Regions from separate parts of the Homo sapiens genome. Here all the other regions are linked to region 4. The links come from fine-mapping of genetic effects on gene expression. A gene starts in region 4. Each other region holds a variant in brackets. All regions are shown on one strand. Distances are between the middles of the regions.

Evidence for each region.
Region 1: its variant is fine-mapped to the expression of CPPED1 in sigmoid colon (GTEx, PIP above 0.99).
Region 2: its variant is fine-mapped to the expression of CPPED1 in transverse colon (GTEx, PIP 0.98).
Region 3: its variant is fine-mapped to the expression of CPPED1 in whole blood (TOPMed, PIP above 0.99).
Region 5: its variant is fine-mapped to the expression of CPPED1 in whole blood (TOPMed, PIP above 0.99).
Region 6: its variant is fine-mapped to the expression of CPPED1 in whole blood (TOPMed, PIP 0.98).

The regions. Positions count from the first base shown.
Region 1 is chr16:12,837,066-12,842,139 of GRCh38, reverse strand. No RefSeq gene overlaps it. Among named protein-coding and RNA genes, the nearest start is that of CPPED1, 36 kb to the right of the region's middle. The variant G/A (reference allele first, on the strand shown) is at 3,029.
Region 2 is chr16:12,357,058-12,362,131 of GRCh38, reverse strand. The region is part of intron 16 of SNX29 (sorting nexin 29); the gene reads right to left. Among named protein-coding and RNA genes, the nearest start is that of SNX29-AS2, 13 kb to the left of the region's middle. The variant G/A (reference allele first, on the strand shown) is at 2,062.
Region 3 is chr16:12,528,618-12,533,691 of GRCh38, reverse strand. All of the region lies in intron 20 of SNX29 (sorting nexin 29), which reads right to left. It also overlaps a transcript of SNX29-AS3 not described here. Among named protein-coding and RNA genes, the nearest start is that of SNX29-AS3, 80 kb to the left of the region's middle. The variant G/T (reference allele first, on the strand shown) is at 3,166.
Region 4 is chr16:12,801,894-12,806,967 of GRCh38, reverse strand. It overlaps CPPED1 (calcineurin like phosphoesterase domain containing 1), which reads left to right and starts at 3,081. Exons shown (of 4, transcript NM_018340.3): 1 at 3,081-3,261. The coding sequence starts at 3,192. RefSeq lists a silencer at 3,000-3,049 and enhancers at 3,130-3,499, 4,822-4,901.
Region 5 is chr16:12,693,063-12,698,136 of GRCh38, reverse strand. All of the region lies in intron 3 of CPPED1 (calcineurin like phosphoesterase domain containing 1), which reads left to right. Among named protein-coding and RNA genes, the nearest start is that of MIR4718, 25 kb to the left of the region's middle. The variant A/G (reference allele first, on the strand shown) is at 2,861.
Region 6 is chr16:12,822,872-12,827,945 of GRCh38, reverse strand. No RefSeq gene overlaps it. Among named protein-coding and RNA genes, the nearest start is that of CPPED1, 22 kb to the right of the region's middle. The variant A/C (reference allele first, on the strand shown) is at 2,212.

The DNA of each region.
Region 1 (5,074 bases), 35 kb before region 4:
TAAATCAGGGTATTTACCATGTCGATCACCTCATACATTTATCATTTCTTTGTGGTGAGTACATTCAAAATTCTCTCTTCTAGCTATTTCAAAATAAATAATACAATATTGTTGGCCAGGCACAGTGGCTCACACCTGTAATCCCAGCACTTTGGGAGGCCAAGCTGGGCAGACCACCCAAGGTCAGGAGTTCGAAACCAGCCTGGCCAACTGGCAAAATCCCAGCTCTACATTTTTAGTTTCTATTTTTAACAAAACTTAGCTGGATGTGGTGGTACGTACCTGTAATCCCAGCTCAGGGAGGCTGAGGCAGGAGAATCACTGGAACCCAGGAGACAGAGGTTGCAGTGAGCCAAGATCATGCCACTGCACTCCAGCCTGGGCAACAGAGTGAGACTCCATCTCAAAAAACAACAACAACAACAACAAAAATATAGTTAAACATAGTCACCCTATTGTGCAGTAGGATGCAAGAACTTATTCCTCCTATCTAACTGCAACTTCGTACCTGTTGACCAATCTCTCCCTATCTCCTCTCCACTAACCTCCGCAGCCTCTGGTAACCACTATTCTACTCTCTATTTCTATGAGATCAACTTCTTTAGATTCCACATAGGAGGGGGATTGTGCGGTATTTGTCTTTCTGTGCCTGGCTTATTTCATTTAACTTAATGTCCTCCAGGTTCATCCAGGTTGCTGCCAATGACAGAATTTCCTCCTTTTTAATGGCTAAATAGTACTCCATTGTATATATATATATACCTACATATTATTTATCCATTCATCTGTTAATGGATACTTAGATTAATTTCATATCTTGCCTATTGTGAATAATGCTGCAATAAACATGGGAGTGCACATGTCTCTTTGACATATTGATTTCATTTCCCATATTTATTTCAATCCCAGTAGTGGGATCGCCAGATCATACGGTAGCTCCATTTTTAGTTCTTTGAGGAACCAGCATACTGTTGTCCATAAAGGCTGTAGTTATTTACATTCCCACCAACTGTGTGCAAGGGTTCCCCTTTCTCCACTTCTGTGCCAGCATATGTTATTTTTTGTCTTTTTGATAGTAACCATTCTACCTGGGGTAAGATGATATCTCATTGTAGTTCTGATTTGCATTTCCCTGATGATTAGCATGTTTAGCTATGATTAGCATGATTAGCAATGATGTTGAGCATTTTTTCATTTATCTGTTGGTCATTTCTGTGTCTTCTTTGAGAAATGTCTATTCAAGGCTTTTGCTTATTTGTAATTGGATTTTTTGGGGTTTTGTGCTATTAAGTTCTTTGAGTTCCTTATACATTCTGGATATTAACCCCTGGTCAGATATATAGTTTGCAAATATTTTCTCCCATTCTGAAGGTTGTCTTTTCACTCTGTTGATTGTTTCCTTTGCTATGAAGAAGTTTTCTAGCTTTAAATACTCACATGTTTTTCTATTTTTGCTTTTGTTCCCTGTGATTTTCAGGTCTTTTGCAAAAAAAAAAAAAAAAAAATCCTTGCATGGACCAATGTCAAGAAGCATTTCCCTGTGTTTTCTTCTAGTAGTTTTGTCATTTTATTATTTCAGTCTTAAATGTAAGTCTTTAATTCATTTTGAGTTTATTTTTGTATACGGTGATAGATAGGGATCCAGTTTCATTCTTCTGTATAGGGAGATCCAGTTTTCCCAGCATTATTTACCAAAGAGACTGTCCTTTCCCCAGTATAGGTTCTTGGCAAATTTGTCAAAAATCAGCTGGCTATAAGTGTGCAGATTTATTCTGTGTTCTCTATTCTGTTCCATTGGTCTGTGTGTCTATTCATATGCCAGTACCATGTGTTTTAGGTTACTATAGCTTTGTAATATATTTTGAAGGTAGTGTGATGACTCCAGCTCTGTTCTTTTTGCTCAAGACTCCTTTAGCTATACAGGACCTTCTGTGGTTCCATACAGATTTTAGAACTGTTTTTTCTATTTCTGTGAATAATGTCATTGGTATTTTGATAGGCATTGCATTGAATATGTAAATTGCTTTGGGTAGTACGAACATTTTAACAATATTAATTCTTCCAAGCCATGCACATGGGATATCTTTCCATTTATTGGTGTCTTCTTCAATTTATTTCATCAATGTTTTATGTTTCACCTCTTTGATTAGATTTATTCCTAGGCATTTTATTTTGTTGCTATTTTAAATGGGATTGGTTTCTTGATTTCTTTTTCAGATCGTTCACTATTGATGGGAAGAAACATTAAACCCAAAATTAATACGAGGAAAGAAATAATAAAGATCAGAACAGAAATAGAGACTTAATGGCCGGATGTGGTGGCTCATGCCTATAAATCCCAGCACTTTGGGAGGCCAAGGCAGGTGGGTTGCTTGAGCGCAGGAGTTCAAGACCAGCCCAGGCAATATGATGAAACCCCATCTCTACTAAAAATACAAAAATTAGTCAGGCATGGTGTGCTCAGGCGTGGTGGTGCACACCTGTAGTCCCAGGTACTCAGGATGCTAAGGCAGGAGGATTTTTTCAACCCGGGAGGCAGAGAATGGAGTGAGCTGATTGTGCCACTGCACTCCAGCCTGCGCAACAGAGGAAGACCCTGTCTCAAAACAAACAAACAACAAGAAGAAAAAAATCAACTCAAGAAGTCCCAAATCTTACCATGTAAATCATGTAAATCAGGCTTGGGTGCAACTCTGGGTATCATGAATGCTGAGGCAAAAATTCTCCTCATCTGTGGAAATGTGAAAGTATAAAACAAGTTATCTGCTTCCAAAATGCAATGATGGGACAGATATAGGACAGGCATTCCCATTCCCATAGAGAGAAAATGGAAAGAATAAGGGGGTCACTTGTCCCAAGTGAGTTCAAAACTCAGCAAGACAAAGCCAGGCACAGTGGCTCACTCCTGTAATCCCAGCACTTTGGGAGGCCGAGGTGGGTGGATCACCTGAGGTCAGGAGTTCAAGACAAGACTGATCAACATGGCAAAACCCCGTCTCCACTAAAAATACAAAAATTAGCCAGACAC[G/A]GTGGTAGATGACTGTAATCCCAGCTACTTGGGAGGCTGAAGCAGGAGAATCACTTGAACCTGGAAGGCAGTGCGGTTGCAGTGAGCCAAGATCACACCCCTGCACTCCAGCCTGGGAGACAGAGCAAGACTCTGTCTAAAAAAATAAAAAACCTCAGCAAGACAAATTTCATTAGGTCTCAAGGCCTGAAAATAATCCTCAACAGGCTGATGCTCTGTCTTCTGAGCCTACAGAAGCCCTGTCAGTCTTAAGGATGTCCTCAGAGTCATTCTTCCTTTTTCTTAAAGGAAACACATGTTTGAAGCTCAGTACCTCTATGAGTTCATATCCTGCCTGTGACATTTTGGAAGTCCAACAGCTTCTCTTCATTTAATTCTGCTTCTGTCCCTTTCAATTCAGGGTGACAGTGCTTCTGCTGATATAACATTCTCAAAACTTTGTGTGTCTCCTGTGCAACTCACAGAGTCCACACAATCAGGTAAGAGGGTTCTCCACAGCTCTTTCCTGGATAACCTCATCTCTATTCCTGGCTTCTGCTAGGATGGCTGATTGTTTCCATTAGCCAAATATTCAATCTCTTTAGAAACAAGAGACAGTAGTCAGAAACAAAAAGATTAGGCCAGGCATGGTGGCTCACACCTGTAATTCCAGCATTTTGGGAGGGTGAGGTGGGTGGATCAATTGAGGTCATGAGCACAAGACCAGCCTGGGCAACGTGGTGAAACCCCATCTCTACTAAGAAATACCAAAATTGACTGGGTGTGTTGGCATGTGCCTATAGTCCCAACTACTCTGGAGGCTGAGGCACGAGAATTGCTTGAACCTGGGAGGCAGAGGTTGCGGTCAGCCAAGATCCCACCACTGCACTCCAGCCTGGGTGACAGAGAGAGACCCTGTCTCAAAAAAAAAAAACACTCAACCTCTTTAGCAAATGGTTTTCCAGCCACTCTATGGGAATATGGGAATTCTCTCCAGAGTATGTTTTAGCATATTTTGAAATACAGGTAGACTGGGATTATTTCAAATCACCAAGTTATGGCTCCTTCTTGCTTAATAGTTCTTTCCTTGATTTAACTCTTTCCTCTTTCATTTTACTATAAATGCAAGGAGAAATCAGGCCACACCTTCAACACTTTGCTTGGAAATCTCCTCTGCTAAATATGCAAGTTCACTGCTTACAAGTTCTACTTTCCACAAAATAACAGAAAACAATTCAGCCAAGTTTCCTGGCACTTTATAACAAGAACCACATTTCCTCCAGTGTGCAATAATTTTTTTGGTTTCCTCATTTCCTTTTTTTATTTTTACTTTTTTTTTTTTGGCTTTTTTGTCTCCTCATTTCCTTCTGAGGCCTCAACAGAAACACCTTTCATTATCATATCTGTACAACAGACTGTGACAATATATGTATTCTCTAAAACAATAGCAGTTTTAATTACCAGCCTCTTCCCTTCCTTTTGAGTTCTCATCAGTATATCTCCCTTAATGTCCATATTTCTACCAATAGTCCCTTCAAGGCAATCTAGCCTTCTTCTGTCAATGCGTCAGAATTCTTTCAGCCTCTACCCACTAGCCAATTTCAAAACCACTTCCACATTTTTAGGTTTTTCTTTTTTCTTTTTTTTTTTTTTTTTTTTTTTGAGACAGAGTCAACCTCTCTCAACCAGACTGGAGTGCAGTGGTGCAATCTCAACTCACTACAGCCTCTGCCTACCAGGTTCAAGCAATTCTCATGCCTCAGCCTTCCAAGTAGCCACAACTACAGGCACATGCCACCATGCCTGGCTAATTTTTGTATTTTTAGTAGGAACAGGGTTTCACCATGTTGGCCAGGCTGGTCTTGAACTCCTGATCTCAAGTGATCTGCCCGCCTTGGCCGCCGAAAGTGCTGGGATTACAGGCATGAAACACTGTGCCCAGCCAATTTGTAGATATTTTTTATAGCAGCATTCCACTTCCCAGTACCAAAATCTGTATTAGATTCCTAGAATTCCCATAAGGAAATATCACAGATTGGCTGCCTTAAAATAATAGAAATGTGTTCT
Region 2 (5,074 bases), 440 kb after region 4:
TAAAATGAACAACAATTCTACTCGTGAAGTAAAATTAGAAGATCTCTAAAGCACACTGTTAAATGAGGAAAGGTAGGACACAGAACAAGGAATTCAGCAGGCTACTCGTTATTAACATGTATAGGCATGTGCTCGTTATTAACATGTATAGGCATGTGCTCGTTATTAACATGTATAGGCGCAATAAAGCGGTGTACTGAGGCATCACTCATACCTAGAAAGAGAAACCCAAGACTGGTAACAGTTACAGATTCCAGGTAGGAAAATCAGGGGGTAAGAGAAAGGAAGAAATTTATTTCACCCTTTTTTACTACTTAACTTCTTAGCATGGGGATGCTAAGGTTTGTCATGAGTCTAAAAATTTTGATACTTCCCAACTGTTAAAAGCAAAAATATTACCATTAGTATATCATATTGTATAATATGAAAAAAAGTTTAAGAAAAAAATAAATTTAAAAAACCAAAAATTTAATTTTTTAAGTCAGATCCAGAAGTGCCACTTCTCAGTGTGGGATGCTGGGAGAGTTGCATCATTTCTGAGTCTCAGCTTTGTCTTCTGCAAAATGGCCATCATAATATTAATTACTATTAGGCCACGTGAGGATTAAATGAATTACTAATATACAAGAGGGAAGCCAAATTTTTGACTGATATCAATTAATAAATATTAGCTATTAATATCAGCAGTTATTCATTTGTACAGGTTAATCGGGTTTTATTATCCACAATGAGAATGATGCACTGACGTTGCTCTCCAAAAATTTATCTACAGTGACAACAGTCACCTACCATTTACCACCTGACACTGAACCTGTCCTAAGAAATGGGACCACTGCCTGGTTCCTGACTGCCCACTGAGCCCCTCTCTTGCAAGGCTAGCCTTGGAGTAGGCTGGGACCCCTGGTGTTGGGCAGGGACAACAGAGAGGCTGGCCCACCTTCAAGACCTACCCCACTCACACTGGGAGACAGGTCACAGCCAGGCCTCCATCCCCACATCCCATTGTCCTTTCTCAGAGGAGGTAGATTAGATGCTGCCCAAGTCTCTAATGTGCAACACGGGTGGCAGGGCCACTGCAGGGATGCTGGAACCTTGGCTGGTGGAAATGGGTACCGTAAGGGGACCCCCTCTCCCATACCCGTTCCTGCAATTCTCTAGAGCTGGTGTAGCTTGGAGAAAGAAAATGGGCTTTGTAATTAAACCGGAGTCTGAATCCAGGCTCTATTACATACACACTCACAGAATGACTGGAGGCTTCTCTGAACCTCAGTAAACCTGTAAAATGGAGATGATATCACCTCCCTGAAAGGGTTCTTAGTATACAACAGGTCCTTCCTAAATATGCTTCCTCTTAAGGAAACTCCTAACTACCTACTTAAAGAAATCCACAAAAACATGTACAAAGTCTTGGAGCTGTCAGGAATTAGGGAAGCAAACTCAGTCAGGGACTGCACTATTAGGCTTTCAATACGGTAGGGGGTGGGGGGATGGGGATTACATTTGTATACTGGCCCCACTGAAACAAATGGGGTCTGGTGTGAACTCGCACCTCCAATAGTGCTTTCCTAGACCAACATTTATGAGCCTCCTGATGGAAACACACACCACCACCTGTGACATCGTTGGGGCAAAAAACCAAACCTGAAACTCATCAAGCCTCCAGAGTGAATGACCAATTTAAAGGCAAGGTAAGGGACAGAGGAACATGACAAACATCACCATAGGATTGCAATTAGCAAAATCCTAACTGGGAAAACCTACAGTTCAAGGAGCCAAGTGTCTTCCACAATAATGACAAAAAAGACAAGGGAAAAAAGAGAGTGACAGCAAGGGAATCTACAAATTAACAGAGCCTGAAGAGGCACACCAACCAACTGCACTATATGAACTTTATCAGGGTCCTGATCAACACAAAGACATGGAAAACTCTTTTGAGCTAACTGGAGAATATTGAACACTGACTGGGTATTTCATGATATCATGAAATTACTGTTAACAATAGGTGTTAGGCCAGGTGCGGTGGCTCACGCCAGTAATCCCAGCACTCTGGGAGGCCGAGGC[G/A]GGCAGATCACTCGAGATCAGGAGTTCGAGACCAGCCTGGCCAAAATGGAGAAACCCCGTCTCTACTAAAAATACAAAAATTAGCCAGGCATAATGGTGGGCGCCTGTAATCCCAGCTACTCAGGAGGCTGAGGCATGAGAATTGCTTGAACCCAGGAGGCGGAGGTTGCATTGAGCTGAGATCGCACCACTGCACTCCAGCCTGGGCGATACAGCATGATTCAGTCTCAAAAAAATAAATAAATAAAATAAAAATAGGTGTGATAATGGTATTGTGAATATATTTTAGCAGTAAATATTGGGTATTTATGAATGAAAGCATAAGATGGATTGGATATACATCCAAATAATGTGAGTTGAGAAGTAATGAGTAGAGTATGAGCAAAGCAAGAATGACCTTGAGTTGATTATTACTGAGGCCGAGTGATAGGGACATGGGTTTTTGTTACATCATTCCCTCTGCTTTTACGTATGTTTTAAATTTTCTACTTTTAAAGTGAATGATTAAGCCAAAGACTAGGAGCAGATATGTAAAATACATGTAACTGAAAAGGAGATATAAAAACAGTGAGAAAGCAAGAAAACCAAATACTGTGCAGTAGAAAAATGGACAAAGGCTGTGAGAAGTCATATGTGAAACCCAGAATGGGGAACAGGCAAATGAAAAGATAGGCAACCTCATCTGTGGTCAGGGAAATGCAAGTTAAACCCATCTCATGCAAAAAGGTATTGGTAGGTACAAGTGGGAAAACATGAACCATTTTCCTTCTGCTGTCATACCACAACCATCAACAAAGACGACTTCTTGGGACAAAATGTGTGGGGGTTTCTCCCTACCACCAAACAATCAGTTCTGCAGCGGACACCAGCTGGGTGTCCTCTGATTCAATTCTGACACATCTACCTGGAGACAGCATCAGATCCCACAGGGTGAGGCTCAGTCCCACAAGACCGCCCCTCACTTCTGATGCCAACCACAAGCCCCAGGTTATTTTACCTGTACTTCTGACTCACTAGCAATAAAATGCGGATCTCACAACCCCCTTCTTGGGTTCCATTAATTTGCTAGAGCAGCTCACAGAACTCAGAGAAACACATTTTCTGGTGATTATAAAGGATATTACAAAGGATACAGTGAAGACATGCACAGGCCAAGGTATGGGAAGCGGTGCGGAGCTTCCATGCTCTCCCCATGTATCAACCTCCAGGAATCTCCACTTATTCAGCTACCTGGAAGCTCCCTGAATCCTGTCTTCCTGGGCCTTTTATGGAGACATCACTGGATAATCAAGATTAACAACGTGATTGGATAAAAAGGGTATGGTCTAAGACGAACAGACTGAGTGGGGAGACCCTGCAAGGCCTGTCTGTCCAGATGCTTCCTGGCTTCTCTGTGCAGTATTCTTTCCTCCAGGGTGCGGGGCTGGACCCCTTCTGAAATGGGGGTCTTGTGACCTACAATCAGACAATAGGGGTCAATTTCTTTATGGATAGCAGGGGAAGATTAGAGTCCTGCCTTGGGTAGAAAAAGGAAGAGGTGAAAAGAGAGCAGGAGAAGGTCAGAGAGATTCTGACCTGGGTTCAAGCAATTCTCATGCCTCAGCCTCCTGAGTAGCTGGGATTACAGGCGCCCACCACATGCCTGGCTAATTTTTGTATTTTTAGTAGAGACGGGGTTTCACCATTTTGACCAGGCTGGTCTCGAACTCCTGATCTCAAGTGATCTGCCCTTCTTCTGAGGCCTAAAGTGCCTCCAACATTACAACAAGGGCTACGGGAATTATGGGCCAGGAACAGCGGATGAAAACACAAATATATAAAATATCACAGCAGGGATGTAAAAGCGTCAGCAGGAACTTTTGCACACAAACAGGGGGTTAATAAATAGGTGCTTTTACTTTATAAAATGGCAAAACTCAGTAAAGTTTAAGACGCCATACACTAAAACGCCGCAATTTCACACTTAGGTACTGACCTTAAAGAAACGTTTGTGTAATGGACCCAGGAAGTGATAAGAGATGGCTGTTAATATCACAAAAAGATAGCAAACATTAGGCATCTCCTGACAGAAAACACCACCCAACGACACAGTCATATAATCAGCAAAATTAAACCTGAATCCAAGCCTCTAATTTAAGGAAATACAGGAAATGAAGAAGCATATCGAATCACACTACAGAGATACCATCAGCAAAGCTGAGGGGTTGAAAACCTCTGTAAGGCAAATCCAGTGTCTTCAGTAAACAAATTATGAGAGAGAAGGGGAGAGAGAGAGATGAGAGAAGACTCTGTTGAAGAAAAGAAACCTAAGACAGTAGTGGATTCATAGAGGAACAAAGTAGAATGGTCGCCAAGGGCTAGGGGGAGTGGGGAGCAGGCACTGACTGTTTAAAGGGGACAGCTTCAGTCGGGGAAGATGGAAAAGTTCTGGAGAGGGGTGGTGGCGATGGCCTCAAAATGTGTGAACGTACTTAATGCCACTCAACTGTACACTTAACGATGGTTAAAATGGTACAAGTTATGTTAGGTATATTTTACCCTAATTTTTAAAATTTAAAGGAAAAGCAACATAGAGACATATTAACCAATTACAATGCATGGGTCTCACATGGATCCTGAATCAAAAAAACTATTCAAAGGTATGAGGCAATTGGAAATTTGAACACTGACTGTGATGACACAAAGCAATTACTGGTAATGGGGGTGATAAGGATATTGTATTTTTTTTTGTATTTTTAGAGATAAATACAAAGATGTCTATACATGAAATAATACCCAGAATTTGATTGAAATGATATAGGAGGAGGAAGCAGATGTAGATAACCTGAAACACAATTGGCCGTGACGGATAATTGTTCACCCTGACAAAGGATATATGAGCGTGCATTACACAGCCTGCCTGAATGTGGGCATTTTACATAATAAAGAAGTTGTAAAATGAGGAAGCTATTATATGTCTGCACAAAAGGACAAGTGTTAGATGCTCACGGCATTGTGGTTTGTAATAGCAAAA
Region 3 (5,074 bases), 270 kb after region 4:
CGACAGAGGTAAATTTGGGGTGCCTATTGATGCTGGAAGATCACAGAACCAAGGCCCCAATTTGGGGTGTCAGTCCAGGTAGCGGGGTGTCTCCTCCCTCCAAATAATATACCTGGTTGATAATGACGAGGCTAAGAAAGTAAGAAATGAGGACAAAAGGCTGCAGTGGCTGACGGGCTGCTCTCTGATGTGACAAGTCTGTCCAGGAACCCCACTGCTGGGGATGGGGGTGGGGAGGTGCAACATTAGTGTCTCACCTCCTGTGGGGTGGAAATATGCATCAACACATCACAAAAGGGGCGAAAGACTCCATGACCTCAAACAGCCTCTTAGCATCTAAGCTATCCCAGGACCCACAGGGCCACAGGTACCAGCCCACGAACAGTGACTAGGGCTGACTTTCCAGGAAGCTGCTACGGATTCTGCAAAGCACTCCACAGGAGAATCAGCTGCCCTTTGGGCAAAACAGCAGCAAAGTGTCCTCTGTGGCCTCAGATGGCTGCTGGTTCCAGAATCCAGTTTGTTCAGAGAGAGGCCCTGCCTGGCAAAGGCGGCCGTGTTTCTAAGCAGAGCTGTCGAGTTGAACCTGTCCCTCCCCGGAGGTGTGATGTGGGCTGTGGCTTGCAAAGGCACCATCGTTTCCCCTTCCTGCCCTTGATGACTTGTTGGTGGCACTCTCCCCACAGACGAGGGGCTCAGGGATGCCACCACAGCCGTGCTGCGCCACCCGCTCCCTGGGTCCGCAGCCAACTTGGCAGCAGAGGAGGACGGCCTGCTGTTCTTAACGCTCTGGGGCTAGGTGTTGATTCTGCAGCTCTCTCACGCAGGGGAAGGCTTCTCTGGGAGACACTGGCTCCCCTCGCTAGGCTGACCAGGCTGTCTTCAGCTTTCGCACCTCCTCCTGCCTCTGCCCCATGGACTCCAGGCTCCTGCCCTGTCCCCAGCTTCCATCCAAGGCCAACACCTCTTCCTGCCCTCTCTTTCCCTGGGCACCTGACCCTGACTTCGTAACCTCTGTGATCCCCCATATGTCAGCCAATTCCACGTTTTATATCAGGAAATCGCATCCCAAAGAGTGTTTCCAAATACCTCAGACAGACTGGGATTTCAGATGGTGAAGTCAGAATTCCTGCAAGTTCTTAGGAATTCTCCAAATCATAAGTTATTCTTAAACTATTACTAACATCCTTCCCACTACTTATCCATTATCATAGACATCTAAAACTGTTTGCTTAATAATATTGAGCTTAGTAGGATTTACAAAACACGACAGCCTAGAATGAATATACAAACGCTGGGAAACACAAGTGAACGCTGCTGGGAGCTGCTGAAAGAACCACACAACACAGGCACCTGCTAGCAAGGCTCATGACGCTACAGAGTCTGGTGTCCAGAATGCCAATTTAAGGACTTATTGTGCTTCCAAAACTTTTTACTTCTTGGAATGCCACTCACAGAAAGTACACAATTTACATAAACATATTAGTATTTATTTGCAAGAATGATTCATTGTTTGCAGTAGACAGAGCCAGGAACACACAGTTACAGCATGGCATCAGTGCAAGGCAATCCTGACTAATGAGATCGTGACCACGTCTCTCCCACATGTTCCTGTCCTGGTTCCTGTAAACGGCGACCCAGACCTGCAGCTCCATGTGGTGACACCTCCTGCTCCTGCCTCTCCTCTGTCGCTGTGGATTCCTCCAAACTGTGATTGCTACATCTTAATTTTCAGCAGGACGGTTATAACACACTCTCCGACCTCTTGACTGGTTTTTCTTGTGACGTGAGAGGGGAGAAGACATACATTTCCTGAGGCATGCCTGGGAGAAACTGCTACCTGAAGGCAGCTCACAGGCGGCCATCCTAGAAGACGTTCACTCTGCCCTCGCCTGGCTCTGGGCCTGCCTTCAGGATGCACGTAGACCAGTTTCTGACCCCAATGCTTCCTTTTCATCTCATCTGCTCCCAAGCGGGCTTCCCCTCCTTGTCCCCTTGACCTCTCTGCACCCAGATATTCAGCCTCAAAACTCGGCATCTTCTGCTGCTCCCCTTCCATTGCCCCAGCAGGCAGCCTAGTCACCTACTCAACTCTCACCGTCCTCATCCCAGAGAATGGCAATGCCGCTGCTGCCCCCTTGCCATGAGGACCACGGGGCAGATGGTGCTGCACACCTGAGACAGTGGGGCCCCACGTCCCCTCTTGGTAGGGCCTTCCAAACCCATGTCCCCCTTTCCTCTTGGCCATCTGGGTCAGGCCCTCCCTGCCTTCTGTCTGCAACATTTTGAGGGCACCCTAGCCCATCGCCCAATCCATCCACTATACCCAGTCCTGGCGTGCTCTTCGGAAAGCACAGCCCTGAGTTCACACACCTGCCAGGGCTCCAGCCCCCAGAGACCAAGACTTCCACCCCAGGTCCCAGTGCGCCCTGACCATAGGGCCAAGTGCCCTGTTCTCCAGGCACAGGGGATGACTTGGGGCTCCCTGCTTCTTGCAGCTGTTCTGCACACCTGGGAAGAGTGGCTTCCCCTTCGATCCAGATCAAACCCTGCATATCAAATTGGTATGAGAGGGTGGGCTTTAGTGATGTCAGGAAAAATTTAAAATGCACATACCCTCTAAGCCAGAATGGCTTCTACACATCAAGCCTGTAGCTCTACCTGCCAAAATGTGTATCCATCGAGATGTTCCAGACTACAGTCTGGGGGAGAAAAATCTGGAAACCTCTTAACTGTTCAAGTAGAGCAAGGGTGAAATAAATTATGAAACAGCCATTACGGTGGATACTATTACCTTTCAGAAGGACTGAGCCAGTTTTATTAAATTAAGAAAGGTGGCCAGGCACGGTGGCTCACGCCTGTAATCCCAGCACTTTGGGAGGCCAAGGCGGGTGGATCACTGGAGGTCAGGAGTTTGAGACACTCCTGGCCAACATGAAGAAACCCCGTCTCTACTAAAAATACAAAAATTAGCTGGGCATGGTAGCGGCCACTTGTAATTCCAGCTACTCAGAAAGCTGAGGCAGGAGAATCGCTTGAACCCAGAAGAGGGAAATTGCAGTGAGCTGAGATTGCGCCACTGCACTCTAGCCTGGGCGACAAGAGCGCAACTGTTCCCCACCAAAAAAAACAAAAAACAAAAAAAAAAAACGAAGGCAAATTTCA[G/T]AACAGTGGAGTTTCTATTTGACTTACATAAATATTGATGATTTCTGCAGTTACACAAAAGACTTGACAGTGAGTGCAAGGGTAGGTGTGCATGGGGTGGGTGCTGTTTACTTCCTCATCTTCTTTCTGTAGTGTTTTAGGGTTTTTCCACACTAGAACTTCATCACTTTCCCTAAAATATCTGCTCCCCACAATCTCCTTCCCCGAGGCTCCCTGTCTGTTGGTACAAACAGTGACACACATACAGTGCTTACTATGTGTGATGCGCTGTTCTAAAAGCTCCTAAAAGACCACTTTCCTCCTCAGTGGAAGAGCCAAAGACTATCAGCAACTCCAAAATCAACACCGCACTTTCTATGTGGCTACCAGGGGTCTCAAACTCACCTGCCTTAGAGGGCCAAGTGGTTGATGTAAGTCAGCAGAGCAGGCCAAGGGGAAAAGCAAGAGGGAGTAGTTGGAACGGTGCCGAACTGGGACACACTTGCCCATGGAAAGTCACATGCATGGACACTTTACTGAACACACACCTAACCAATATGCCTGCAGCTTTGAGATCTCTTGCATGGCATCACCACTCCTTACTGGCAACTGGGTAACGCTGAGGACTTTGGAGTCTGGAAGGTTCTGGCCAGTCCACAAAACAAGGGAAGTCAAAAGTTGCTACTTCCTGTTAGCAGTGACTTGCAAAGCAGCTTAGGTTCAAGTGACCCCTGGCAGTGCACAGGTCAGGGTGTGGCATCGCTGAGCTAAACGTAACCTGCTCACTGGGAGAACAAGGCAGCTCATATTTCAGCAAAAAATGGATATATTTCACAACCCTAAGAGAGAATGCAGCAGCAAATGGGGGCGGCGGCGGGGGAAACCCAGACTGGGTTTTCTGCTGAAAATCCAGTTGGGAATTTGTGCTGTGACCTACATTACTCTGCCACCTTCCAGCCCCCTAACTTTCTCTCTCCTCAAGGAGCAGGAGAACATAATGTATTTCCCAAAGTTAAATTACTCTGCAGAAAACCATTTTAATAATGCGCTAAATGACAGCACGGCAAATCACTGAAGCTGTCACCGATTTGCGGTCCAGTCTCACTGAGCGAATTCTTGGAGTCCGAGCCTCCCTCCACGAACGGTACCTCACATCTCCCCGGGGATCTCTGCCATCTGCAAAGTGTCACGTCTCTTAGTAACCACCCCTTCCCCAAATGTCAGACGACGAACACAGCACGGGGCTTCCCAAAGATGTGGGTGTTGGGAGGCTGGCACTCATCTGTTCCTTGTCTTGGGGAGTAGACTCTGGTCCCCCCTGGGCCACACTGATATACAGAGTTCAAAATAGAAAAGAAATGCCCCACTTCCCACCGGCCTACTTTCCAATTCAGAGCTGGCATTAGCAAGGGAGGCAACGGGAGGCACAGAGACTGGGAGGAAAAACTCAACCTCCCGATTCTTCAACTCAGATTTGTGCAGATGGCAGATTACTTAGAAGTCATGATGCCTCTTACAGAACACAGTGAAATATGGACACGTCAAATGGAATTTAAAAATGGAAGAGTGTGTGTGAAAGCAGGTTCCATCTAATACTGGACTGAAAGTTTTAAGTAATATTTGTGAGGAAAAACACAAGCAATTTCTACCCACTGGTTTTTATCTTTCCTGCCCACCTTCTCAGTTCCCAAACCAGAATGGGACCACCATTCCTGAAGCTGATCAGTGGCCCTGTTCACAGAACACACAGTGGCACAGTGTGCAAACCGAATGCATCATGAGTAACGTGGATGTCCACAGATTCAAATGGAGGGGCCGTGGGAGCAGTGGAGAAGAGCCAGGACTGCAAACTCCAGAGCCAGGTAGTCATGCAGGCAGGTGATCCACCCAAATGTATGACATAACCAGGCAAACAGCATGGAGGGGATGC
Region 4 (5,074 bases):
TTTCAGTACAGATGGGGTTTCACCATGTTGGCCAGACTGGTCTCGATCTCCTGACCTCAAATGATCTGCCTGCCTTGGCCTCCCAAAGTGCTGGGATTACAGGCGTGAGACACTGTGCCCGGCCAAAACAGTAAATTTTTTAAAAAGGTAACCAACTTAATAGACCTTATAGTTGAGTCGGGAAAGTCAACATTAAATAAATAATTACACCTGAAAACATATAATTATCAACTGTGCAAAGTGCAACAAGGGACAAGAACATAGTGCTCTAACAAAGAATGAGGGAGGCCTAGTTTAGATCAGCAAAGTGTGCAAATGGGTAGGGCATGGCCTCTCCACAGAAGTGTTATTTAACTGCAGGCCTTCATGTTCAAATGGGCTTTAGCTCAGCAGGGGAAGATACTTTTTTGTTTGTTTGTTCGTTTTTCAGACAGAGTCTTGCTCTTTCACCAGGCTGGAGTGCAGTGGCGCGATCTCAGCTCACTGCAACCTCCGCCTCCCGGGTTCAAGCAATTCTCCTGCCTCAGCCTCCCGAGTAGCTGGGATTAAAGGCACGCGCCACCACATCTGGCTAATTTTTGTATTTTTAGTAGAGACAGGGTTTTACCATGTTGGCCAGGATGGTCTTGATCTCTTGACCTCGTGATCCACCTGCCTTGGCCTCCCAAAATGCTGGGATTATAGGCATGAGCCACGGTGCCCAGCTGGGAAGAGGCATTTTAAGCAGAAAGAACTGCATATGCAGAGAGGGAAATTAATTTGCATGTTTAATGAACTGAATGGCCAGTATGACTGCAAAGCTAGTGAATAAGAGGCAGGGTCTGTTTCTATAATTCATTCTCTCCTTCACATTTCTTTTAATTAAAAAAAATTTTTTAATAGAGATGAGTTCTCACTATGTTGCTCAGGCTGGTCTTGAACTCCTGGGCTCAAGTAATCCTCCTGCCTAAACCTCCCAAAATGCTGGGATTACAAGCATGAGCCATTGTGCTCAGCTTCCCCTTCACATTTTTTTTTTTTAAAGACACAGTCTCACTCTGTCGCTCAGGCTGGAGTGCAGCGGCGGGATCTCGGCTCACTGCAACCTCTGCCTCTCGGGTTCAAGTGATTCTCCTGCCTTAGCATCCCGAGTAGCTGGGACTACAGGCGTGCACCACCACACCCAGCTAATTTTTGTATTTTTAGTTGAGATGAGGTTTCACCATGTTGGCGAGGGTGGTCCCGATCTGTAGACCTCATGATCCGCCACCTCCACCTCCCAAAGTGCTGGCATTACAGGCCTGAACCATTGCGCCCGGCCTCCTTCACATTTCTTGGGACTCCTCCTCTGGGCCAGGCCATGTTCAGGGAATAGGGTTATAGTGATTGATTAATAATAACAATGGCTAATATTCATTGAGTACCTACCATTTGTTATTAGAACTATTATTCTAAGCACTTTGATACATGAACTCATTTAAGCCTTTCTGCAACCCTATGACCTAGATGCTACTATTGTTTCCATTTCACAGATAGGGAAACTGAGGCATAGAGAAACTATGCAATTTTCAAGAGCATACAACCAGTAAGTGGGTAGAACCGGGATTAATCCAAGCCCACTGACTCCAGGACTCATAGGCATTTATACTCTTAACCACTATGATTCATGGGTGACTCTTGTCAAGGATTAGAGAACAGTAGTTATGGCCATATTAGCTACTCAAACAGTGCTTTGGATGTAGGCAGCTAGTTTAGAAAAGAATTTCCCAAATTTGTAAGATCATAAGAGCTCCCCTGCAGTGCTTGTTAAAAACAGATCATTTTCAGGCCAGGCACTGTGGCTCATGCCTGTAATCCTAGCACTCTAGGAGGCCCGGGTGGGTGGATTGCTTGAGCTCAGGAGTTCCAGATCAGCCTGGGCAACATAGTCAAACTCGTCTCTACTAAAAATACAAAGTATTAGCCAGGCATGGTGGCGCACGCCAATAGTGCCAGCCACTTAGGAGGCTGAGGTGGGAGAATCACCTGAGCCCAGGAGATCGAGACTGCAGAGATTGTGCCACTGCACTCCAGCCTAGGCAACCAGAGTGAGACCCTGTCTCAAAACAACAACAACAACAACAAAACACAGATCATTTTCATAGAGATTTGGATTCAATAGGTCCATTCTGGAATTTGTATTTTCAACACGTTTGACAAATGCTGGCTAAGTAGTTCACTACAATGGCTCTTGAGTTGAAGAGACACTAATTTGGTTACTCGCAGCTTTACTACCTCTCTAGATGTGTGTCACCTTGTGCAAGTTCGTTCATCTCTCTGAGCGTCAGTTTCCCCAAATGACGGATGCAGCTAATAACAGCACCACCTCCTAGGGCTGTAGTGGGGATTAAGTGAGCAGCGTGCAAAGTGCTTAGCGCCCTGCCTGGTGCATAGCAAGCAAAGATAATAACAGAAAGATGGTGGCAGCCACTGGGAAGTTCAGGCTGAGACAGTCTTCCAAGACGTCCACCTTTTCATCTTTTTTTTTTTTTTTTTTGTATTGGCAAGGTCTCTCGCCGTGTTGCCCAGGCTGGTCTCCAACACCTGGACTCAAGCGATCCTCCCTCCTTGGCCTCCCAAAGAGCTGGGGTTACAGGCGTAAGCCACCCCAGTGGCTCCTTCTGACTTTATGATAGAGTTGTCAGATAAAAAAAAATCAGGACGCTTCCATTCAAACCTGCAAAAAGAGAAAAATTTAAAAAAATTAGGACGCCCAGTTCAATTGGAATTTCAGATAATGAAAAAAAAATTTAACGTAAGTAGCTCCCAAATACTGCATAGGACATATTTATACCAAGTCAGTCATTCTTTAAAAAAAAAAATCTGAAATTCCAATTTAACCGGGAGTCCTGCATTTTTACTTGTTAAATCTAGTAACTCTGCCTTTAGGGAAGGACTGACCCCAAAGCCTTATCCCCGCCCACGCGTGCCCTAGACAGTCTCCACTCGCCAGGCGCGCAGGTCGATCCCAGAGGGGCCGCTGGCGCCTCCGCTCCGCCCAGGCAGCACTAGTGGCGCCCCGAGCCACCGGGCCCCTCCCCGTCCCGCCCCAGTCCCGCCCCGAGATCAAAGGGCGTCGCCCAAAGCGGGACAGGTCCAGCGGTTGTTCTGTGTGAAGTCGCGCGGCTTCCACCCACGCAGTGTTCTAAGTGAAGGCCAGAAACTCGCTCGCCATGTCGGCTGCAGAGGCGGGGGGTGTTTTCCACAGAGCCAGGGGCAGGACCCTGGCCGCGTTTCCCGCAGGTACTGCCCGCCCCTCACCCGGGGAGGGGACTCTGGGGCTGCGGAACCTTCCGCCGGGGGAACCTTTTGTTCAGGTGTGCGCTCCGCCAGTCGGACACCATCCGGGGCTGCACCGGGGCCTGGGAGCCGCCATAGCTGCATCAAAGCCTGCTCTTAGGGATTCCAGGGGCGCAGTTGAGAGGCGAGGCCGAGAGAGCGATCTGGTCTAGGAGCCTCCTTGGCCTTGACCTAACTTCCCCCAGAGAAGGGAAGTAAGAGGAGGGTAGCAAAGCATAGTTAATGACAGCTTGGACTCTGCAGCGAGACCTGGTTTCCAAGCTGTGCATTAGCATCTTGGCCTCAGCTTCCACATCTGTGAAACGGGAATACTTGTGGGTGTTACTGGATAAGCGTTCGGTGCATGTTAGAGGGTGTCGGTTTTATTAAGGTTGTTCACCGTTATGTATTCTGTACTCCATAATGACGTTTATTTAAGTCATTCACCGAAATGGTAACACTGCCCCATCAGAGCAGTAGAGAGGGAGGGCATTCGAGAGTCGTAGTGAAGTGCTTGGATTTTGGATTTAGATTATCTGCTTTGCCTTAAAAATGGGTTTGATAATACCTGCCTCATAGGGTTGTTGGAAGCGTAAACAGATCAAAAGTATTTTTGTAACCCGGTGTTGGACGCATGCTAGGTGCTAAGTAAAGAGGGAGGTTTGTTTCTGGTTTGTTGATTCCCCTCTGTGGCTTTTTGCTGCCTGCAGCCAGATCGCCTCCCAGGCTCTCACCAGCTTTATACCCCCAGGGAAGTCACCCTAAATGCCCTATATGATCAGGCTTGTGTCCACTTCCTTCAGGGTTGTCATTCTCTCTCTTGCCCAGTTCTGCAACAGGTTTTGTTGTTGCCCTTGTTTGAACTGCATTTAAAAGGGCCAAGGCCGTTCTTTCCCTGAGGGTCTTGGCGCTTGCTGTTTTCTGCTTCTTTAGCAGGGTTGGTGAGCCTGGCTCTCTCAACCGTCACACCTCATTTTAAAGTTCATTCACTTCCTCAGAGACTTTACCTGCTACCTTATCTAAAGTAGGTTTCTCCGGTAATTCTATGGTAAAACCTTATTTATTCATTTAAGGCGGAGTCTTGCTTTATTGCCCAGGCTGGAGTGCAGTGGCACGATCTTGGCTCACTGTAACCTCCGCCTCCCGGGTTCAAGCGATTCTCCTGCCTCAGCCTCTGGAGTAGCTGGAACTATAGGCACGCACCACCACGCCCGGCTAATTTTGTATTTTTAGTAGAGATGGGGTTTCTCCATGTTGGCCAGGCTGGTCTCGAACTCACAACATCAGGTGATCCGCCGTCCTCAGCCTCCTAAAGTGCTGGGATTACAGACCTGAGCCACCGCGCCCGGCCTGGGACGACTGTATTTTAATGGACCTTGTCTTTTTTGTCCAACATGAAGATTTTGCTCTTTTCTTGCTGGGCAACATTCCATTGGATGATTATATACCTTATACATTCTGTTGATGTATATGCTGAATATCTTCCCTTTGCCTCTCCAAACCTTTCTCCCTTCCCCACCATGCCCCAGGGGTTTGCCCTCCGTGAGCTACATCGGTGGGCTCCTTGCCTTTTGGTTTTCCTTTGGGCTCAGCCAGTGGGGAGCCCTGAGAAGAAATCAGAGCAGGGAGAGAAGCAAAAGGCAGCTGTATTTATTCTTGCAGTTTACTCTGTGGGGTTGCCTCGCCTGGCTGTCTTCCTCCCCACCCCTGAAGGTCAAGGTCGCTCCTTTTCTCAGGACAGCTTTTCTCCTCATTCTCTCTAGTTCTGGATTTGAGT
Region 5 (5,074 bases), 110 kb after region 4:
GAACTGACTTTTTTTTGGTGGGGGTTGGGGTCAGAGTCTCACTCTGTCACCCAGGCTGGAGTGCAGTGGTGCCATCTTGACTCACTGCAACTTCCGCCTCCCAGGTTCAAGCAATTCTCCTGACTCAGCCTCCCAAGTAGCTGGGATTACAGGCACACGCCACCACATCTGGCTAATTTTTGTATTTTTAGAAGAGATAGTTTCACTGTATTGGCCAGGCTGGTCGCAAACTCCTGACCTCAAGTGATCCGCTCACCTTGGCCTCCCAAAGTGCTAAGATTACAGGCATGAGCCACTGCACCCAGGCCACAAGCTGACTTTTGTATGGGAAATGCTTCGCCTAGAGGGGTCAATAGAACTTTTCGGTAAAGGGTCAGATAGTAAATATTTTGGGCTTTGTGGCTCTATGGTCTCTGTAGCAACTACTCAACTCTGCCTTCATAACAAGAGAGCAGCCACAGACAGTGCAGTGTTCCAATAAAACTTTATTTCCAGAAACAGGTGGTAGGCCTGCCGGTGATAATTTTCCAACTCTTGGCTTAGAGAAATGTTCCCATTACAGGGTGACGCTCTTGCTCTCCCCAGAACCTTGTCCACATTCTGTATGTGTCTAAGTTTAGGATGCATCTGACGACCCCATTGTAACAACTGCCTGACTGACAGAAAGGTCTGCCCAGAACAAGCCTCCTGAAGGTCTTCAGTGGAGGGCGTGCCTGGGTGAGGCACATGTTCCCCTGAAGACCAGGATGTGATGGATTGCAGACAAGAGGGTCCATGGTGCATGTAAGATGTCTAATAATTGGGTGATCAGCTTCACATGTATTAGAAAAAAATAGAACTAGCTTATCAATTTAAAGAAAATGATTTAATTATCACCTGAGCTCAGGAGTTCGAGACCAGCCTGGCCAACATGGAGAAACCCCATCTCTACTAAAAATACAAAAATTAGCCAAGCGTGATGGCACACACTTGTAGTCCTAGCTACTTGGGAGGCTAAGGCAGGACATTGGCTTGAACCTGGGAGGCAGAGGTTACAGTGAGCTGAGATTGCGCCACTGCACTCCAATCTGGGCAACAGAGCAAGATTCTGACTCAAAAAATAAAAAATAAAAATAAAGAAAATGATTCAGTAAATAGTAGTATGAGTACTGTGCAGATAAGGCAAAACTTGGAGGTTTGTACAGGGGGAATTAGCGTCTGGGCCGGTGGGCAGGGGGTCCTATAACATGGCAGGTGAACAGACAGGATTTGGCTTCTTAAGTTGCTTGGGATAAGCCACTAAACATTTCTCTGCCTTAGTTTTCCCACTTGTAAAAAGAGGGTACTCACCCCAACCTTGTCAAGTTGGTGTATCCCTTAAGGAGAGTCATATATAAAATCAAAAAGACAAGTCAGGCCAGGCGCAGCGGCTCACACCTGTAATCCCAGCACTTTGGCAGGCTGAGGCAGGTGGATCACCTGAGGTCAGGAGTTCGAGACCAGCCTGGCCAACATGGTGAAACCCCATCTCTACTAAAAATACAAAAAATTAGTGGAGCGTGGTGGTGAGTGCCTGTAATCCCAGCTACTCAGGAGGCTGAGGCACGAGAATCACTTGAACCTGGGAAGGCGGAGGTTGCAGTGAGCCGAGATCACGCCACTGCATTCCACCCTGGGCGACTGAGTGACACTCCATCTCAAAAAAAAAAAAAAAAAAAAGAAAGTCACTTAGCACCATGTCTGGCTCATAGTGAGCACTCACTAAGGGCGTGTTTGTTGTTCTGTATGATCCCGAACCGTTTGGGGACCCCACAGCAGGCAAATGTGCTTTATCCATTAGCTAGACCGGCATGCTTCTCACCCCTGGGGTGCTGGCGTCCTTCTTGCGGGCGTTCTTGAGAATCTCCAGGACAGGCGGACCTGGTTTGGGGACATGCCTGCTGCCTGCTGATATAGCTGTGTAGATTTGAAAGGGAAAATAATGATCAACTCTGTTCAAAATGCAAACTATAGGAAGTAAAGCTAGACAAAATTCTCTTGGCTCCTGGGATATGCGGGAAGATAGACGATTACAGCCAGTCTGAGAGTTTTCAGGGTAGATGAGGAAGGCATGCTACTTTTAATTTTAACAAAAGGGGGTACTGGTTTAAAAGGATGGTAGTCGCTGAAGTAGATGAAAAATTCTTACAGAATGTAGTGATAAAATTTGATCCTTTGTTTATTTTTTAAAGCACACACCTGTTTCAAAAGAAAAAACCTTAGACAAATTAAAGTTCACAGTTTAGTTGAGCAAAGAATAATTCGTAAATCAGGCAGACCCTGAACCAGAATAGAGGCTCAGAAAGACTCGAGCACAGCCAAATGGTGAGAGATTTGTGGGCAGAAAAAGGAAAGTGGAAAGTGAGGTACAAAAACAGCCAGATGGGTTACAACTCAGCATTTGCCTTATTTGAACACAGTTTGAACAGTTGACTGCCTGTGATTGGCCAAAACCGGAGATTGGCAAGAGTATGTTCTATTCTGTTTACACATCCAGTTCACTGTGTATACAGAGAAACCTTTGGCTGAAATTAAAATGTATAAAGAAGGCTGGGCATGGTGGCTCACACCTGTAATCCCAGCACTATGGGAGGCCGAAGTAGGAGGATCGCTTGATCCTAAGAGTTCGAGACTAGCCCAGGCAACATAGTGAGACTCTGTCTTTGCGAAAAGGATTTTTTTTTTAACTAACCAGGCATAATAGTATGCACCTGTGGTCTCAGCTACTCAGAAGGCTGAGGTGGGAGGATCGCTTGAGCCCCGGAAGCCAAGTCTGCAGTGAGCTGTGATTGCACCACTGTACTCTATCCTGGGCAACAGAGCAAGATCCTGTCTCAAAAAA[A/G]TAAGTAAATAAAAATAAAATATGTAAGGAGGCAGCTTGAGCCTCAACTTAATTTAACATACCTCACCAATTAAGTGTTAGTAAACACACCTTTGAATGTATAATTTCATAGTCAGATTTTTTTACAAATGCAGCAAACCTGTCCACAGGGCAGTGACAATCATGTTACAGTGCCCTCCCATTTAAAATGAAATTTTTAGGCTGAGTGTGGTGGCTCATGCCTGTAATACCAGTCCTTTGGGAGGGCGAGGTCGGTGGATCACCTGAGGTCAGGAGTTCAAGACCAGCCTGGCCAACATGGTGAAACCCTGTCTCTACTAAAAATATAAAAATTAGCAGGGTGTGGTGGCGCACACCTGTAATCACAGCTACTCCAGAGGCTGAAGCAGGAGAATCGCTTGAAGCTGGGAGGCGGAGGTTGCAGTGAACAGGGATCGTGCCACTGCACTCTAGCCTGGGTAACGAGAGCAAAACTCCATCTCAAAAAAAAAAAGGGGGGGGTTTTTAAAAAACTATCTCACACTCATGCCCCCGCCCCCCCCCCCACCTTTTTTTAAGCATCCATAGAATCCAGAGTTTGTGGGACCTTATCAGCTAGAGGAAGTTTACCCTCTTTGTTTTATTTCCTCAGATTTAGTCTTGAATTCATTTTCCCACGTTTGGCCTATTTTTTAGGTTCCAATCAGTTCACCGCAAAACATCACACACTAGTCATTTAATGTCTGATTCTCATTCACTATAAACCTAGATAAAAGACTAACTGCCAAAGCTACATCTGGTGTAAAGTGATGGATTAGATTTCTCACTTTGGAGGTATCCTTAACAGTTGGGCTAATTAAAGTTGAAATCAAGTCCTGATGGTAAATATTTATAAATTGAGAATCTGGCGTGTGTAAATGTATGCTGCTGATTCCTAAAGTTAAATCAACGTTTATCCATTCAGCAAATAGCATGGATCCCACGCTAGGCACTGAGGATGGAGGGATGAACAAAACAGAGAAGTTTCTTCTCTGAGGTTGTAGATTGCTCTTCAACTAAAAATGTCTGGGTTTTTCTGTTCTTTTGTTTTTTGTGAGAGGGTCTCACTCTGTCACCGAGGCTGGAGTGCAGTGGCGCAATCTCGGCTCATTGCAACCTCCACCTCCCAGGTTCAAGTGATTCTCCTGCCTCAGCCTCCCAAGTAGCTGGGACTACAGGTACCCGCCACCACACTTGGCTAATTTTTGTATTTTTAGAAGCTATAGGGTTTCACCATGTTGGCCAGGCTGGTCTCTAACTCCTGACCTCAGGTGACCCGCCCACCTCAGCCCCTCCTAAAGTGCTGGGATTACAGGCATGAGCCAACACAGCCGGCCAAGTAAAAATGATTTAATTTTTTAATTTCATCACAACATTTCAAAAAGGAGCCCCCAGAACATGGGGAACAGCAGTGTCTGTTGAAGTTTATGAAGTCAAAATATTATATCTTCTCCTTTGAGATCATGTTTCAAAAATAGCAATTAGTGTCATTTTGAAATTAGCAGTGAGATTCCTTTGTAAAATTCCAGTATCTCCAGCTTAGTGAAACGCTCATTCCGTCTACTAGTTCAAGTTATTTTTTATTTACTGCACTTGCCTTCACTTAAAAGACATTTTCCCTATTTCCCACAGTGTAAGTACAAATCTACAACATTGCTTTGTAAAATAAGTTCAAAAATGCTTTGATTTCATTGCCTTTTAAATTTTACTTAAAAATGTTTGCATATGAATTGATTGAGTTGAAAGTAAAAAAAAAATAGCATGGCCAGGCACAGAGACTCACCCCTGTAATTCCAGCACTTTAGGAAGCCGAGGTGGGCGGGTCGCTTGAGCCCAGGACTTCGAGACCAGCCTAGGCAACATGGTGAAACCTGTCTCTACAAAAAAACACAAAAAATGAGTCCAGGCATTGTGGTGCACGCCCAGCTACATGGGAGGCTGAGGTGGGAGGATCGCCTGAGCCTGAATGTTGAAGTTGCAGTGATCCATGATTGCACCACTGCACTCCAGCCTGGGTGACAGAGTGAGACTCTCAAAAGCAAATACCACTCATTTAGGTGAAGCCTCCTGGGTGCCAGACATTGTCCTGGGAGCCCCTCTATCAGGACCTTAAAGGTGCCTTCTCCAGGTCTTCGGCACAGGTGTGGAAACTGAGCACGTCAGTTGTAAGGAGCAGAGGCCCTCTAACTCTTGAAT
Region 6 (5,074 bases), 21 kb before region 4:
TTATCTTCTTTGAATCTAATCATCTGCCCGATTTGTATATTTCTTTATGCAAATTGGTCAGATGTTCTAAAAATCATATAGGAAGGCTAGGTCTAATAGCTCAGGGTCAAGATTTAGCATTGGAAGTCTTAAGGTCATTAGTCTTCCTTTCTAAAGTTACCTCTTAAGAAAATTCATAAAACTAGTGAATTCATTCACTTTGGATGGATCTTTCAGTTCTCACTTGAGAGAACAGATTTAAAAGGGTAACCCATTGAGATAAACACTGCAGTCCATGTTGGAATAACCAGATTAATATTTCTAAAAAGTAATCAGATTAATTTCTGTGGAAGGCAGTGGAGCTTAATGGTTAACTGTTGGGAGCTTCAGACTTGGATGAAACTGGCTTCACATCCCAGCTTTGCTCTTCAATTGCTGTGGCAGGTAGACTCGATATGGCCCCAGTGATTCCCACCTCCTGGTCTTTGTGCACTTGTGTAATCCTCTCCCCTAAGTGTGTATTGCCCTGGTGGCTTGATTCTAACCAACAGAATATGGTCAAAGTAATTGGATGCTACTTCTGTGATGAAACTACACAAGATGTGAGTTTTGTCTTGCTAGAAGTTTCTGTCCCTTGCTGCTTTGATGAAGCAAGTTTCCATGTTGTGAGCCACCATGTTAGAAAGTGCCATGTGCCAAGGAACTGAAGGTGGCCTCCAGCCAACAGGAAACTGAAGCCCTTGGGCCAAGAAACCTGAAGGAACTGAATCCTTCCAACAGCCATGTAAGTGAAGTTGCAAAGCAGACCTTTCCCCAGCTGAGTCTTCAGAGGTGACCCCCACCCTGACTGACTCCTCAGTTATAGCCTCTTGAGAACCCATAAGCAGAGTATTTAGCTAAGCTTTGCCCAAACTCCTGGCTCCCAGCAACTGTCAAATAATAAATATTTGTCATTTAAGGCTGCTAAGTTTGTGGTAATTTGTTAAGTAGTGTATTAGTCTGTGCTCATGCTGCTGATAAAGACATAGCAGAGACTGGATAATTTATAAAGGAAAGAGGTTGAAGGGACGTGTTGGACTCACAGTTCCAACATGGCTAGGGAGGCCTCACAATCATGGCAGAAGGCAAAGGAGGAGCAAAGTCACGTCTTACCTGGCAGCAGGCAAGAGAACATGTGCAGGGGAACTCCCTTTATAAAACCATCAGATATTGTGAAACTCACTACCACAAGAACAGTATGGGGGAACCACCCCTATGATTCAATTATCTCCACCTGGCCCTGCTCTTGACACGTGGGGATTATTACAATTCAAGTGAGATTTGGGTACAGACACAGCCAAACCATGTCAAGTAGCAATAGATCATCAATACAGTAGCTATGCCACCTTGGATGAGAGAATTAACCTCTCTGAGCCCAAGTTTTTTCTATGTAAAATGTGGATGCCAATACTTACTTCTCAGCGTGGCTGTAAAGATTCAATAAAACAAATGCTTAACATTGGAGCTGGCACCTTGTCAGCTTACTTTAAATTTACTTTTATTTTATTGATAATATTCTGTACTCATGATGCACACCAAACTCAGGAAATAATTAATGTGATATACAGGAATTTTAAATATATAAATCAGTTTTTTTAGAAATCACATACCAGGAAATTCAATGTTACAGTTGTCACAAAAGGAGGCACAGTTTCAGTTTTGTAAACAAAAAATAAAATTCTAAGGCCCATGTGAATGGACCCCCTCCTCTTAGCCAAGGACATTCCAAAGTTAACCTAACTAGTTCAGACCATGGTTGGGGGAGAGTCGGACATGCCTCCTTATACTCTCCCTGCTTTTGAAATTCAGGAAAAGCCAACCAGCATTAACATCAACACAGACCTTAAAGTTGATAAGAAACATTTACAGGCCAGGCACGGTGGCTCATGCCTGTAATCCCAACATTTTGGGAGGCCAGGGCAGGCAGATCACTTGAGGCCAGGAGGAGTTCAAGACCAGCCTGGGCAACATGGTGAAAACCCATCTCTACTAAAAATAGAAAAATTAGCTGGCCATGGTAGTGGATGCCTGTAATCCCAGCTACTCAGGAGTCTGAGGCAGAAAATCGCTTGATCCCAGGAGGCAGAGGTTGCAGTGAGCCAAGATCACATCACTGCACTCCAGCCTGGGCGACAGACAGAGCAAGACTCTGTCTCAAAAAAAAAAAAAAAAGAAAAGAAAAGAAAAAAAAAA[A/C]ACCATTTACAATCTATTATCTCCAAAGCCTGCTACCTGGAGGCTTCTTCTGCATGATAATACTTTGGTCTCTACAACCCATTATCATAGCCGAGATATTCCTTTATATTGATTCCAGGTCTTTAGATAATAACTTAACTCTTTTAGTCAATTGCCCATCAGAAAATCTTTTTTTTTTTTTCATAATTTCATTTTCTTTTTTTCTTTCTTTTTCTTTTTTTTTTTTTTTGAGATGGAGTCTCACACTATTGCCTGGGCTGGAGTGCAATGGTGTGATCTCAGCTCACTACAACCTCCGCCTCCCGGGTTCAAGCGATTCGCCTGCCTCAGCCTCCCGAGTAGCTGGGATTACAGGTACCCGCCACCATGCCAGGCTAATTTTTTGTATTTTTAGTAGACACGGGGTTTCACCATGTTGACAAGCTGGTCTTGAACTCCTGACTTCGTGATCCATCCGCCTCAGCCTCCCAAAGTGCTGGGATTATAGGAGCCACCACGCCCAGCCCAGACAATCTTTAAATCAACCTATAACCTGGAAGCCCCCGTCTCGAGTTGTCCTGCCTTTCCAGCTCGAACCAATGTACATCTCACATGTATTGATTGACTGATGTCTAGTTAAAAGGTATAGAAGCGAGCTGTATCCTAACCACCTTGGGCACATGTCATCAGGAAATTCTAAGGCTGTGTCACAGGCATGTCTTTAACCTTGACAAAATAAACTTTCTAAATTGATTGAGACCTGTCTGGCACATCTGTTTGGGCTCACAGTTTCTACTGCCTGATTCTTGTGCAATGCAAGTTGAGGGGGGCACCTGAGTATCTGCATGCCAGAGGAAAGATCACCCCAAAGAGAGGCAACGGGAAACAAAGATCCACAGAAAGAGGAGTGCATACATACTTCATAAGAGTAAACCAGTTTAGGGCTGGGCACAGTGGCTCAAGCCTGTAATCCCAGCACTTTGGGAGGCCAAGGCAGGCGGATCATCTGAGGCCAGGAGTTCGAGACCAGCCTGGCCAACATGGTGAAACCCTGTCTCTACTAAAAATACAAATTTAGCTGGGTATGGTGACTCACGCCTGTAGTCCCTGCTACTTGGGAGGCTGAGGCAGGAGAATTGCTTGAACCTGGGAGGTAGAGGTTGCAGTGAGCCAACATTGCACCACTGCACTCCAGCCTGGGTGACAGAGTAAGACTCCATCTTAAAAAAAAAAAAAAAAAAAAAAGAGTAAACTGGTTTACCCATAACTTATAGTTTAGTTTGCCAAGTGTGAGGGATATTGGGGAGCCCCTTACACTATTGATGGGAAAGAGAACATGGTGACAAAACCCATCAACAATTTATGTGTATGTGCTATTTAGCCCAATAATCCCATTTCTAGGAACTTATCCTAAAGAAATTCTCCAAAAAAGAGCACCAATATATTTAAGCTGTTTATTGCAATAGTCCTCATAGATAGTAGGTTGAACCATATGAAATGACTGGTATTTGGCCATTTTTGACCAATGAACACAGCAATTTCATAGAGTTCTACCTAAAAGAACAGCATTTGAAACAACTTCAGAATCCACGTGCAACTGTAAAACTGTGGACTATTTTATACATACACATATATGGCATATCAACATTTACATACACACACATATATATTGGTATATATGACATCAGCGTATTAAGTAAAGAAAACAGCTGACAAAATAACATTCCTAGGCCATGCAAAACAATGACTTTGGGAGGTCAAGGCCAGTGGATCACTTGAGTCACAGGAGGTGGATCACTTGAGTCCAGTAGTTCAAGACCAGCCTGGGTAACATGGTGAAACCCTGTACCCCGTCTCTTAAAAAAAAAAAAAAAATTAGCCAGGCATTGTGATGCATACCTGTAGTCCCAGCTACTCAGGAGGCTGAAATGGGAGGAACACTTGAGCCTGGGAGGTGAAGATTGCAGTGAGCCATAATCACACCATTGCACTCCAGCCTGCGTGACAGAGCAAGAACTTGTGTCAAAAAAAAAAAAATTTAGCGAGGCATGGTGGTGTGTGCCTGTAGTCCCAACTACTCAGGAGACTGAGGTGAGAGGATCACTCGGGCCTGGGACATCAAAGCTGCAGGGAGCCGTGACTGCGCCACTGCACTCCAGCCTGGGTGACAGAACAAAACCATGTCAACAACAACAAAAAAGAAAATAAAAGAAACTCATTTGTCCTTTATTGCTTTAGTATTTCATGAAGACCATAATTTTATCAGGCAATAAAACTTCCGTGGAGGTTTAAAGAAGTTCCTTCAATTTCACACATTACCCTTTGCATTAACTGTAACGTCAGAACACTCAGATGGCCAAGAAAACATGAACAGTCCACCAGCAAAAAAGGGTTGGATAAGGAGAAAAAAAAAATTGGAAAGAATTCGATATACAATATTTCAAAAATATAAGCATCTAAGTGCCAATGATAGAAAAACATCAGAATTTTATTGGGCTTTCTCATCCTGATTTTGGTATTATTTCCATTACGAAGAAAGGGGCACTACGATTGCAGTTCTTGGGACTCTAAAAGCCTTGAGCCAGTGTTAGCTTCATGTAATTTTTAACATGGACTTGACCCAGGACATACTGTTTCCAAAGAACAGCTTCTTCTCATAAGGCAGGGACAAAACAGGAAAGCAAATCTCCTTGCTCTCTTGTTTTTGAATGTCTTTTGCTCTAATAATCTGTGTCAAGAACTGCATGGCTGAATGTCATACTGTGTTGTGCTTGCGGCTGTTGTGCACATTGTGATAGAGATGTTTACAACTGGATGGTGGGTTGTCACAGCACAGCACTGGGGACAGTGGCCAGCACTGCTCAGGAACACAGCTGAGGGCCGG